Linked DNA regions of Homo sapiens: regions 1 and 3 are each linked to region 2. The links come from fine-mapping of genetic effects on gene expression. A gene starts in region 2. Each other region holds a variant in brackets. All regions are shown on one strand. Distances are between the middles of the regions.

Region 1 (4,247 bases), 580 kb before region 2:
AAAAAGTCCTAAGAGCATTACAACAGTATATTCAATGTCCTATGATATTTAATCAATCTTTTAGCGTCACATTAAGGACTAGAAAAGGGCATTTACTTGGTGTTTCAGCTTTCTAGAGTCGGAGCTTTCTCAAAGTCCTCATCCCCATAAATGCATTTTTCTTTTTTCCTTTTTTTGTTTGTTTGTTTGATCTTCACTGGGCAGCTATCTTGACTTTGGAAGGAAATGGTTATCTATCCCAGGATGTCCCACACCAGCTGATTATGTTGCCCAGGCTGGTCTCAAACTCCTAGGCTAAAGGGATCCTCCCACCTCGGCCTCCCAAAGTGTTGGAATTACAGGCATGAGCCACTAAAGGCATTTTTCATTACTGAGATTAGGCTCACAAACACATCCATAATCCAACCAGGTAATGTTTCTAAGGTAACCTTTTAGCAGATTTATTACAGTACAATAGATTATGAGGGGGAATTCTATACATACAAATAATATACAAACACAATTACCTAATTTATTAATTTACAAAACCCAAAAAGTTAAACCAACTAAAAATTTATCAGTATCACCATCAGAACATCTTTTCTTTTTTTTCTTTTTTTTTTGAGACAGAGTCTCACTCTGTTGCCTAGGCTGGAGTGCTGGAGTGCTGGAGTGCAGTGGTGCCATCTCAGCTCACTATAGCCTCCGCCTTCCGGGTTCAAGCGACCCTCCTGCCTCAGCCTCCTGAGCAGCTGGGGCTACAGGCGTGAGCCACCCCGCCCGGACGATTTTTGTATTTATAGTAGAGACGGGGTTTCACCGTGTTGGCCAGGGTGGTCTCGAACTCCTGACCTCAGGTTATCCACCCACCTTGGCCTCCCAAAGTGCTGGAATTACAGGCGTGAGCCACCACATCCGGCCTCAGAATATCTTTTCTAGCACAAACTCTAAAATTGTTAACTTAATTTTACCAACATTGGTTTCACTAGCTAATAAAACAGAAAAATCACTTGGCATAAAATGAAAAACTATTCCCTATGTCCTCTTTTCATTAACAGTCTAAATTATTCTGAATCACTCTTAGCTAATTACAATTACATACAGCTTGACATTCATTTTCCTAATACCTTTAGAACTTTCTTAAGACATATAAAATAATACCAGGGATTTTGTCTACATTCCATTTTATTTTATTCATACTTTCATTTTCTTCCTACCTGAATTACGAATTTTTAGAAGTTGAACAAGTTCTTTTGAAAGTCAGTTGGAAGCTTATATAAATAGGAACACTTTTTTTTTTAAGGTAAAGTTATCAAGCCAGGCATGGTGGTGTGTGCCTCTTGTCCCAGCTACTCCAGAGGCTGAGGCCAGAGGACTGCTTGAGCTCATGAATTTGTGAGCAGCCTGGGAAACACAGCGAGACCCCATCTCTTTAAGTTCAGGGGTTGATGTGCAGGCTTGTTACATAGCTAAACTTGTGTCCTGGGGGTTTGTTGTACAGATTATTTCATCATCAAGGTATTAAGCCTAGTACCCATTAGTTATTTTTCCTGATCCTCTCCCTCCACCCACCCTCCATCCTCCAATAGGCCCCAGTGTGTGTTGTTCCCCTCTGTGTGTCCATGTGTTCTCATTATTTAGCTCCCACTTATAAGTGAGAACATGCAGTATTTGGTTTTCTTTTCCTATGTTAGTTTGATGAGGATAATGGCTTCCAGCTCCATCTATGTCCCTGCAAAGGACTTGATCTCATTCTTTTTTTATGGCTGCATAGTATTCCACAATGTGTATGTACCACATTTTCTTTATCCAGTCTATCAGTGATAGGCATTTAGGTTGATTCCATATCTTTGCCATTATGAACAGTTCTGCAATGAATGTGTGCATGCATGTGTCTTTATAATAGAATGATTTACGTTCCTTTGGGTATATAGTAATGGTATTGCTGAGTCAGATGGTTTTTGTCTTAGAAGACCCCATCTCTTAAAAAAAAAAACAGTTGTTAAACAAAAAAACCAAACTCTAATATCACACAAAAGAATACAATATGACACT[C/T]CTGAATTTCACAGATTTTTCATTTCATGTCTTGGGCTTAAGCGCAGTGCAGGCAATATTTCAGCGGTCTTTAACTTTGTCTGCATATTAGAATCACCCAAAAAAGTTTTTATCTTGATCCAGCCAAATAATCTAAATATCTGGGTGTAGGCCTAGGTATTTCTTTTTAAGGCTCCCCCAGTGATTTTTAAAGTACAGTGAGGGTTGGGAATCAGTACAATACTACCTAGTGCTGCTACTGTTGTCCAATACAAGGATGTAATATTTGAATTAGCCAACAATTATCCTTCTTGATAGTAGTATAAACAACCCTCACCTATGAATATTCTCATTAATTTTTTTCCATGCTACAGACTTTGGTTGGTATGTGATCTTTGCCAACTATAACTAATGACTTAGAAAGAGATGTGGGTTCTAGTCCTGATCTGTCCATTTGTGAACCTATTCTAATTACTCCCACCAGCTAGGCCTGAATCATTACCTATGAAATGCTGGTGTTGGATTAAATATCTAGGACCTTTTCTAACACTGTAACATTATAACCAGGATGTTTTACAAATTAAAAATAAGTAAGTTTTTTACTTATTTATCCAGTTTAGTTCCAGTAGTTGTGACTATTCTCAATAGCCATAGGAATCATGCTAAATTCCATGAAGGTACACAGAATGTATTTCCTCATTAGGAACAATATTCAAAGTTATTGTGAATGTCACAAGATGCTGAGGAAATGCCAAAGCAACCACATTTTTTCAGACCTGATGCTACTGTAGCAACAGACATTCATGGGGGAAATGCACTTGGTGAATAATTGTAATTAAAGTATCAATTAAAAAACTTAGGTTTTGTGGTCTCATTAAAGTTATTTACCTTATCTGTGCTTCTTCTATTACAAAATGGACATAATAATAGTACTTACTCTCGGGGTTGTGAGAATGAAATTATACAATGCATTTAAAGTATTTAGCAGCCAGGCATGGTGGTTCATGCCCATAATCCCAGCACTTTGGGAGGCTGGGGCAGGCAGAGAGCTTGAGCCCAGGAGTTTGAGACCAGCCTGGGCAATATGGCAAAACCCTATCTCTTCAAAAAATGCAAAAAATTAGCAGGGAGTGGTGGCGCACACCTGTAGTCCCACCTACTTAGGCAGCTGAGATGGGATAATTGCTTGAACCCAGGAAGCAGAGGTTGTAGTGAGCAGAGATAGTCCCTCTGCATTCCAGCCTGGGGGATAGAGTGAGACCCTACCACAAAAAAATAAAAATTAAAAAAAAAAAAGTATTTAGCAAATGCCTTGAAAACATGTGCTCAATACTTTTTAAAGATCTTTTTCCCCTAGAAACCTTAAAGTATAAAGCCACGTCTATAAGTCAAGAAAAGCAAAGGAATTTAAAATCAATTATTTTATTTCTACCATCAGGTAATGAAAAGGACTAGGATCCATCTATACCATCAGATGATTTTTGGATGAAGCAATTCTGAACCGGGTAATAGAACTGCTTGGGAAAGCCCAACTTTTTCTGGAAACAAAAGATTAACATTTGTCCCTTCATAATCTCAGTGAATACAATATACGATAAATTCCAAGGAATTCAAATTTAACTAGCATTCATTAGGTTGATGAAACTAACTCTATAAATTACATTTGATTTAGCTGTACAAAAACATTAAGATGAACACAAACAAGAATAGTATATGCAAGGGTCTACTTTTTACTTCACAATAGACCACAAGGAAGTAATACTTATACTCCTAAAACAGAGGCAGTTACAAATTTGCAGAAACCACAAACTGAAATAAACAGACATATATAAAACAGAGAGAAATTTGGCTAATATTTTAATATCCCAATGAAGAATCTGAAAAACACTCTCTATGAAGAACATACGGAATCCACTCTTCAACAGAAAAGCCTGCCCATTAATGACACTCCAAGAAGTGTCATGATATATGCGATTCACTTTCAAGTCTTCAGCAAACTAAAAATAGAGTTATGAGACTTAAACAGATAATAGACAGTGAAAGCAAATATGACAAAACAAATTATTATATGATAAACAACCCGTTAACAAAGGAAGGTAGATGGAAAGTATGTGGTTATTCTTTGCATTTTTTCAGCTTTTCTCTATGTTGAAAACTCTTATGATACAAAATTTGGAAATGAACATACATTCTAAGCTTAAAAGTATAACTGAAATTAGTCTCTTTTCCCCTTA
Region 2 (4,247 bases):
GCATGTAATTAAATATACTTGCCAATTCAAGACATGGTAATCAATTTATATTACATAGTCCTAGTAAGGAAGAATTCTTTATACTTAACTCCACCAGTAAGGTGCAATGAATGGAAAGACACATTGATAGTTCTTTCTGATAAGGGCAATGAATGATGAATGGAGCACAGGCTTTTAGAGTCCTACAAGCTGACAATTTTCAATCTATCTGTAGGTGAAAGAGACAACATGGGACAGAGCTCCTATAGCTCTTGGTTTCCTGTTCTCACTCTAGTTCTTCCTGGTTGTAGCCTCGTGGTTGCAAAACTCACCCAACAACTCCCACTACAGAACTGAAGCCATGGCATGTAATGACTACAGGAGGAGATCAATTTACAGAAATATCTTAATGTAAAGTTCACGTGCCTGATTGAAGAGGTAAAGCCAACATGTGGTCATTCAAGAAAAGAGAACTCAAAGGACTACACAAGTAGTTCCTTTGTCCAGTTATTGATAAGGGTACAAGAAGCAGTTATCTCTTTCAGAAAACAGGCAATCAGTTTGAAGAACAAAGATTTCCAAAGGACATGATAGCTTATAATTACTTCTCCACTACTCACTCAGTATATCAAACTATAATTTTCTTGATTCTGGACACATGGCCAGAAAAAGTGAAAACAATGGTTATTTCAATGGGAAATCCACCTCAAAGAAGAAAAGTAAAACTGGGGTGAAAACTAACATATTAAGAAATCCATAAACAAGTACACAACTCTTTATCTCAAAAGAGATAAAGAATTCTGTCAAAACACTTCTCCCATCACAATTAAAAACTTGCAAGCATCTCTCTTTTTAAAAAAGCATGATCAATCATAGGAATTTATCCCCAATGGTTTGAACATGAAAGCAGGAAATACAACTATAGATCTACTATAAACAACCCGCTTTCAGAACTTTTCCAATTCATAACACCCCTCTTTGTGAGACTGGTTGAGTTGGCAAGGCCAATTAACAGAAGGTGCCAGCTGTTTTTGTCGTTTCAGATTCTGACATTTTTAGCCCTCTTATTGAAAAACATAAAGTGTTATATCACTTAGCATGAAATCTTTGCCTGCAAAGAAAGTGAATATTTATAAACTCTAAGACTAGAGAGGCTCTTAAAGGATACCTAGTTTCCCCCAAGGTTGCAACTGTCACACCTGCTCCAAATCTTAAACCTGGGAACTCTGCTTACCTCCTTCACTTAGAACTTTTATAATACATCTAAGTTCAAAGATGACAACTCGAATGCTTTCTTGTGACAACATAAGACATTTGAATTTATTTATCTACTACCTAGTTAGCTGGAACACAATTGGGTTACTGCTAATTCTGAAAGTGTAAAAAAATATTTTTTTGTTTAGGTTTCCAGTGTGCATTTAAAGATACACAACCTCTGAGAGAGAAATTACGTCAAGGTTAACCTAAAATCAAGAGCAGGCAACATGCCTTACGGTGCATTGTAACATCTTGCAAAAGTAAACAGAGCCATATGCTCTTGGTCACATGCCACCAGTACAGAAGTCAAAGGAATATATAGTGTGTTTAAGGCGAGCATATTTATATTTCAAGAGAGGAACATCTATTTCACCCTGCACCACTTCTCTCAGCAAGCCAGTGTGAGCCAGAAAGGGTAGGGCGGAATCAGAAAGAGAGCTGGATCTAAGGCAGGGACAGTGGAGTGGATGGGATAGAGGGCACCAGAATCCAGCCTCCCTCTTGCTCCACCCTACCTAGAGCTAGTGAGGAAGCGCCAGGCTTATATTGCAAGATGAGCCAGGAAACCCAAAAGCAGCTATGAAGAACCAGGAACGTGGGGCGAGGGGAGGAGTCGGCGAACTCTCCGACATGTCCTCAAGACAGAAGGCCAAGCTTGAGGCCTGCGGCCACCCACCCACCCTACAGCCACCAGCCTTGACCCAAGGAGTCCGGAGCCTCCCAGGTGCGGGACGCATGCGCACGGTGACACTGCGCACGCCCCGAGGCCGCAGCCCACCCTCCACAGACACTGAGCCGCAAACTGCGCCAGGCCCCGCGTCGCCTCTCGCCGGATCAGGGCCTCGGAGCTCCGCAGCCACGGCTGCCGCTCCCCAGGCCCTGGTCGTGGGCATCACCTGGGTCCAGACCTTTGGGCTCACACCTCCCGTTGACGTGCAAGCGCCGCAGTCCCTGAGTCGTTTCTTTAGATCAGGGCGCCGCCGGCGTCCACCGAACTTGCTTCAGTTTAAGCTCAGCGCCTTCCTGGTTCTAGCGCCAGGCAGCTTCAGCCGAGATATCGAGTGCATCGATGGACGCTGCCAGGCGCTGGGAATGCCGAGGGAGTAGATTGTAACGCGGCCGATTTTTTGTTTGGCGTTTGTTTTGCGTGCCTGTTTATTTTGATTTTATTGTTACCAAAAGCAATAAAGGTGGGACTGGAGAGTGTTATTGTCTTAGTAGTCGTCGTTATCGTCATGGGTAATCAGTAAACAAATCTGCATCGTAGGAAGTTTTGTTTATGACACCTACCCGAAACAAAATTGGTTATCTCACGCTGGGGGAGGGGGAAACTCGCCCAACGATAATAAATCATGGGAGTGTGTCTGTATAGAGTCGTGTGTGATTAAATTGTAATGATTTATTTGCAAAAATGCATTAAAAGTCGGTGTTTCTTCTGCCCTGAAGGTGAAGGCACTCACAAGTTGAGTGCAAATTAGTTTCTCAGATTAAAGTAACTGGTTAGTAGAGGAATAGGAGAGAGCTGCCTGAGGCGAGGCGGGGAGCGGTTTCTTCTGAAAGAGAACTCAAATTTATAGGTGTGTGGAGTTTTTTTATTTAAACCAATAGAAATTAAAGAGACTCAGCATTTTCTGTAATTCATACTACATTACTTATTTTTCCTTACATGGAAATTTTTTCCTCATTTACTCTTAAGCAAAGCTAAAAAGATAAATAAATTGTTGGCCTGGGTTTTGGTCGACTATGAGAATCAACTCATTCACCACTGCTAGATAACCAAGCTACAGTTTTCCGCAGACATTTGAGATGGTGAAAAATCACCTCCACAATATATTTTTCGTAAATAATGTACCTTAACTAGCCAGTTTTGAGGCACCGTTTTAAAACTTAACTACTACAACACTACGTGTATATTTTAAATAATTCAAGAGCTGGGGAAACCCTTGGGGTCCTGAATTTTATTGGAACCTGTGCATCTGTCCACAGACTGTCAGCTGAGCTTTACCATAAATGCTTTTTTTTTTTTTTAAACAAAAACTGTATTTTGAAATGCCCTGTTTCTGGAAGATATTTGCTGTTTAATGAAACAACATCATTGGAACTTTGTGAGCATTTATTAATGTATGAATTTAAAACCTTGAAATATTTTTTAAAGTAACTTCCCTTAGGCCAGTGGAAATCTGTGGTCAGACACTAAAGATTTCTCATGGCTCCATCTGTTATCAACACTACTATTCCTAAATATGCAATGAGCCAAAAAGCTGAGATCATGGGAAAATTTATTGGTTTGAATTACACAATAGTTGTGTCTGTGACTTCCCTGATTACCTTCAAAGTGGTCATCTTTCCCTCAAGCTCAGTAGATGAAATATGACTTCAAACCTAAAAGTCATGTACTTAAAAAGGCAAACAAGTAGCTGGTGGGTCTCCTGATTCCTTAACCGACTTCTAACAGTGGTTATTTTTGAGTTATTTGTGAATATGTATTTAACACCTCAGTTTGAGAGCACCTTGAGCACCGTATCCTCTTAGCTCTCCCTATTACTGGCCCTTCTGCTAAATAATCTTAAAAACAGATTTTCATAAAGGACTAAAGTTGTATGATTATTTTCCTCTGATAATATCAGAAAGTAGTTACAAAGAGTAACCCAAGACTCAATGTGAAATTGTTTCTAAATTCGTATAACTTTGAAACTTTGTCCCTTTTGTGGTGTAACAAAACAAAAGCAAGTACTGATAACAATGTATTCATACCTAAAAGCTATAGCTGCGGAAAAATTATAGACATTAGCTCTCCTAAAAGTGGCAAAAAATGAAATGTTTTAAAAAGGGAAAACAACGTTTCTAAAAAGCATGATATACATAATCCTTAAACTCACCAAACATGAACATTTTAATGTGAGTATTGTAGTATAACATAAGGTTATATCCAGCTTCTATCTACATCTATTTGAGAAACACTAATATATTAAGTTATAATTGTGTTCTCTTTTTGCAAGTGTTTCAGGTTG
Region 3 (4,247 bases), 25 kb before region 2:
GCTGCTCATTCCAGTTGAGGAAATAATGAAAATAAATAGTGACCTGAATAAAAATTAACTGCATACATGGTTAGACTCATGGTCTGGGCTTCTTTATTTTGGATAAATTTTATTAAAATGGACTACCTCAGGTAAATGAAAGAACGATAGAAACACACATTTATTTAACAGTGTCCTTACAAGAACAGAGCAGATTTTTAGAACTTGAATTGATAACCTCTTGTACTTATATGTGTGACCCATCTTACACTCAACTTATTATCCTCAAGCAAACGGCTCACTTTCAGACTATCTGTCCAAGAACAATGTTGCCCAGTTTTGCTCGTCCACAATTTTCTCGTTTTCTCTATTGCTCCTGCATGATCTCCACACCCATTGAAAAACTGGAGGGGGAAAGGAAAAAAAAGAAAAAACACTCTGCAAAAAGAAAACCATAAAGTCACCACACACTGAACAGAACCATTTCTGCCACCATTACTTGCTTACCTTATCTTCCCTAGTCTTAGCTCCCTCACCTAAAAGAAATAGTATAAAATAACCTTTTAGCCCTAAAAATTCTGTACCTCTATAAGACCTCACAGCCACCTCTGAAAGCTATTAATCAGATAAACAAAAACTCACATACAAAAAGCATTTTCATTACAAATATACAACAGAATAAGAATTTAGCTCAGTGCAAACTAGAGCTCTGTAGGGGAGCAAGTAGAAGTTTACCAAGCAAGCAATAGCATCAATGTAATTGTTCAGTTCCTTTTAGCGGATTTAATTATAACTATTTTAGAGCATGGTAACATGGCAAAATAATAGGTACATCTAATTAGTTTTTTAAAAAACTTAAAAATGATATTTTAAAATAATTTAAATAATATACATTATGAAACTTATTTTCATGTAATTTCGAATCAAATTAGAACTAGAATGAGCATAATACTTTATACATGAAGATACTGAGACTCAGGCTGATTCAGAGCTCTTTCCATGCTATCTCTTGTCTGTAATGCCACCTTCTATAATTTCAAATTAGTTTCTACATGGTAGAAATGCAAATTAAGTAAGGAGTGATTATGATCAAGCTTACAGCTCAATCTATACGTTGAAAATGAGTAAGACTGCATGCATATCCATGTTTCCTTGACAAAGTGGGCTCTGCTTTACCATGCTTGCTAAAATTCTGCCTAAGGAAATCCCAGCCTAAGGAAATGTCTTTAAGTAAAGACCTAAAAGATTAATTACAGATCATGGGTGGGAGAAAAGTACATTTTGAGCAGAGGCAACCACCACATGTTCAAGGGTCCTTAGACAGGAAAAGAAAACTGTTTAAACACTACAAGTATGACTAGCATTGGAAAGATGTGATTGAAAAGGCAGGAAGGAGTCAGATCACAAAGGGACTTAAAGCCTTGTCAACATTTTGGGTTTTATTCTAAACCACTGAAATAAAGGAGGTCCTATCAGATTTGCATTTTGCATTGCATTTTGGCTACCATGTGAAGAAAAAAATTGGAGGGAAAACTCCAGAAAAAAAAAACATTAAAAATTTACACTATAGGCCGGGCGCAGTGGCTCATGCCTATAATCCCAGCACTTTGGGAGGCCTAGGCGTGTAGATCACTTGAGGTCAGGAGTTTGAGACCAGCCTGGCCAACATGGTAAAACCCTGTCTCTACTAAAAATTCAAAAAAAAAAAAAAAATAGCTGGGTGTGGTGGTGCATGCCTGTAATCCCAGCTACTCGGGAGGCTGAGGCAGGAGAATCACTTGAACCCAGGAGATGAAGGTTGTAGTGAGCCGAGGTTGCGCCACTGCACTCTAGCCTAGGTGACAGAGCGAGATTCTGTCTCAAAAAAAAAAAAAAATTACACTATAATTTGGAAATGACTACTTCTCTTCTGCTAATATCCAAAACACATTCTGAGCCTCACAAAACAACATGTGGCAGTAAACAGCACAGTTAAGAACTTACACTAAGTTCAAATATTATGTTATTAGCTGGTA[C/T]GGTATTTTGGTTCATCAAATATTGAGATGATAAGCCAAAAATAACAACTTTTATGTAATTAAATTAGTTTTAAGGAATTTAGGGGTATTATGCACATTTACCAGAATCTTTATAAAAAGCTAGAAAAAAATTATCAATAAATTAATCACCACTGATGTAAGTCACCTGGGTAAATATTTCACAGTGCCTCATTTCAAATGTTTTACACACTTAACAAAAATTGTGCTATAGTGTTAAGTACTTAAGATGACAAGACAGTACATAAAAATCAAATATTATGGTTACAATTAACGTGACAACTCCACATCTCTTTGTCTCTCATAGACTATATAATTAAAAGTTAATTGAATACCTTTCCAAAGAACCTCTTTTTCTGCCAGTGTTAGATATAGAACTCTTAGAGTGAAAGCAAAAGAAAGTTCTTCCTAGTTACACATTGCCAAGGACAAAAGTCAGACTAATCAAAAGATTCCCACCAAGAACTCCGTGACATCAACTAACATTTCACTGATAATTCCGCAAAAGAATATTCAGTATATAACAGCCTTGATCTTTGTGAAATGGCTCATCTGTCAGGCATCTTTCATTTGCTATTCAAAATGACTAATCTAAAGGATGCTGCAAACTATGCAATGCAGATTTTCACTTCAAGTTAACAATGCAATTTTCTAAGTCAAAACCAACTGATAGTAAAATACTATTTACACAACAAGTTTAATCTCTGAATACTATTATTCTATAAAAGCATGTTGTAAAGGTAGATGATCTTTGAAATAATCTAAAAGAAAAAAATTTTTAATTTACTAGTTAGGATGCTTATAAATACACGGTATAATAATTAGCTAGGAAAAAATGAAGCTAAAACTACTGTAAAGAATAAATAATCATTAAAGAGTCTTCAGTCATAGGTTAAAATATTCTTCTCACACAAATATTTACATAATTTCATCCCTACCATCCTAGTAAAGTATTATGCTCTAATAAGAACTATCCTAATCTTCACTCAGCAATATTTTCAGGCTGATATTATTATTCTCATTTCCTTGAATAATATCCATACTCCAGGGCCATTTTCTTTCTCATATTCAATATCATGCATGCTTGTATCAAGGTTCCTTTCTTCATATCCTGTCACAGTATCAATCACTGCCTCCTGTCCACTCAATCCACTTTTGATTTATCAGCCGCCGTCTTTCTGGACTCCATAACTCGACCCAAACCATTTTAACAAGACATTGACAAATAGCACCCAGAATCACTTCAACCTGTTCCACTTAGTAAACTAAGAAACAGTAACTGTGACATCTCTGCATAAGTATTCCATTCTATTCCCCAGACTGATGTATATTAATGAGAAGATGGTATTTGAAATGCTTCTTCCACATCAGCATCTAATATGATCAAATTAGGAAATGGGATGATTTATTAAATTTTGTAGAGCTGAAATATTTCTTTATATCGCCATATGTGTGGTTTCAGAAAGTGAGCTGTTGCTTTCAATTTTTCTACTGAAGATATGCCTGCATTTCACAGACGAATTATTGTCTTTAAAAAGATTGCAAGAAGGCAAAATGTTATTAAGCAAATGCTCAGTAAAACAAACTAAATTGGTTTTAAAATTCCTAATTTAATGTAAATCTTGGTTGTTTCACTGAAATTCAGTTTGTGATCTTATTTAGTCATATTTGCATCGTACTGTCTTGCTGTAGGACAGTTTTAAATTTATAGCATTACCAAGCAGCTTCACTTCTTGACTTTTAAGATATGTCCTCAATAAAATAAATAATTGCTCTCTAAGCACATATTTTGTTCTCATTTTCAGATACAAGACAAAATAAAGATCAATAGGTTAATAAAAGAATAAAATAAAAATAGAAAATCAACTGGATCATTTCTATAATTTTCATAATTAGATATTAAAATGTTTTCATTAAAGTGATCCCCAATTTAAAATTCAATAACTGTTTCATGCATAGTTTAAACTTTAAACAATAAATTAGTTTTTCATATTACATTTGGATATGAAAGGGACATTCAATACATTCACAATAAAAATAAAATGAGTTAGAATAAATGTAACATTCATATTTTCCTTAAAGAAATTCTCTTCTTACTTCATCTTCTAGTTTCCAGATATCCGTTTATTCCAGAAGTCGAACTCTACACTCATCTCAAAACTAGAGGATTTCCAAGAACAAAACTACATTTAAGTCTATTTCTAGGCTGATCCCAACGTACTGGGCATACTTAAT

What was found. PIP is the estimated chance that this variant, and not a neighbour inherited with it, causes the effect.
Region 1: its variant is the best candidate, but not a certain one, in a credible set for the expression of RSRC1 in whole blood (INTERVAL, PIP 0.58).
Region 3: its variant is the best candidate, but not a certain one, in a credible set for the expression of RSRC1 in whole blood (INTERVAL, PIP 0.60).

Annotation. Positions count from the first base shown.
Region 1 is chr3:158,691,745-158,695,991 of GRCh38, reverse strand. It overlaps GFM1 (G elongation factor mitochondrial 1), which reads right to left. Exons shown (of 18, transcript NM_024996.7): 18 at 411-4,247. Among named protein-coding and RNA genes, the nearest start is that of LXN, 21 kb to the right of the region's middle. The variant C/T (reference allele first, on the strand shown) is at 2,035.
Region 2 is chr3:158,108,109-158,112,355 of GRCh38, reverse strand. RSRC1 (arginine and serine rich coiled-coil 1) reads right to left here and starts at 2,267. Exons shown (of 10, transcript NM_001271838.2): 1 at 2,133-2,267. RefSeq lists enhancers at 1,694-1,743, 1,605-2,104, 1,954-2,303, 2,105-2,606.
Region 3 is chr3:158,132,881-158,137,127 of GRCh38, reverse strand. All of the region lies in intron 3 of RSRC1 (arginine and serine rich coiled-coil 1), which reads right to left. Among named protein-coding and RNA genes, the nearest start is that of RSRC1, 25 kb to the right of the region's middle. The variant C/T (reference allele first, on the strand shown) is at 1,995.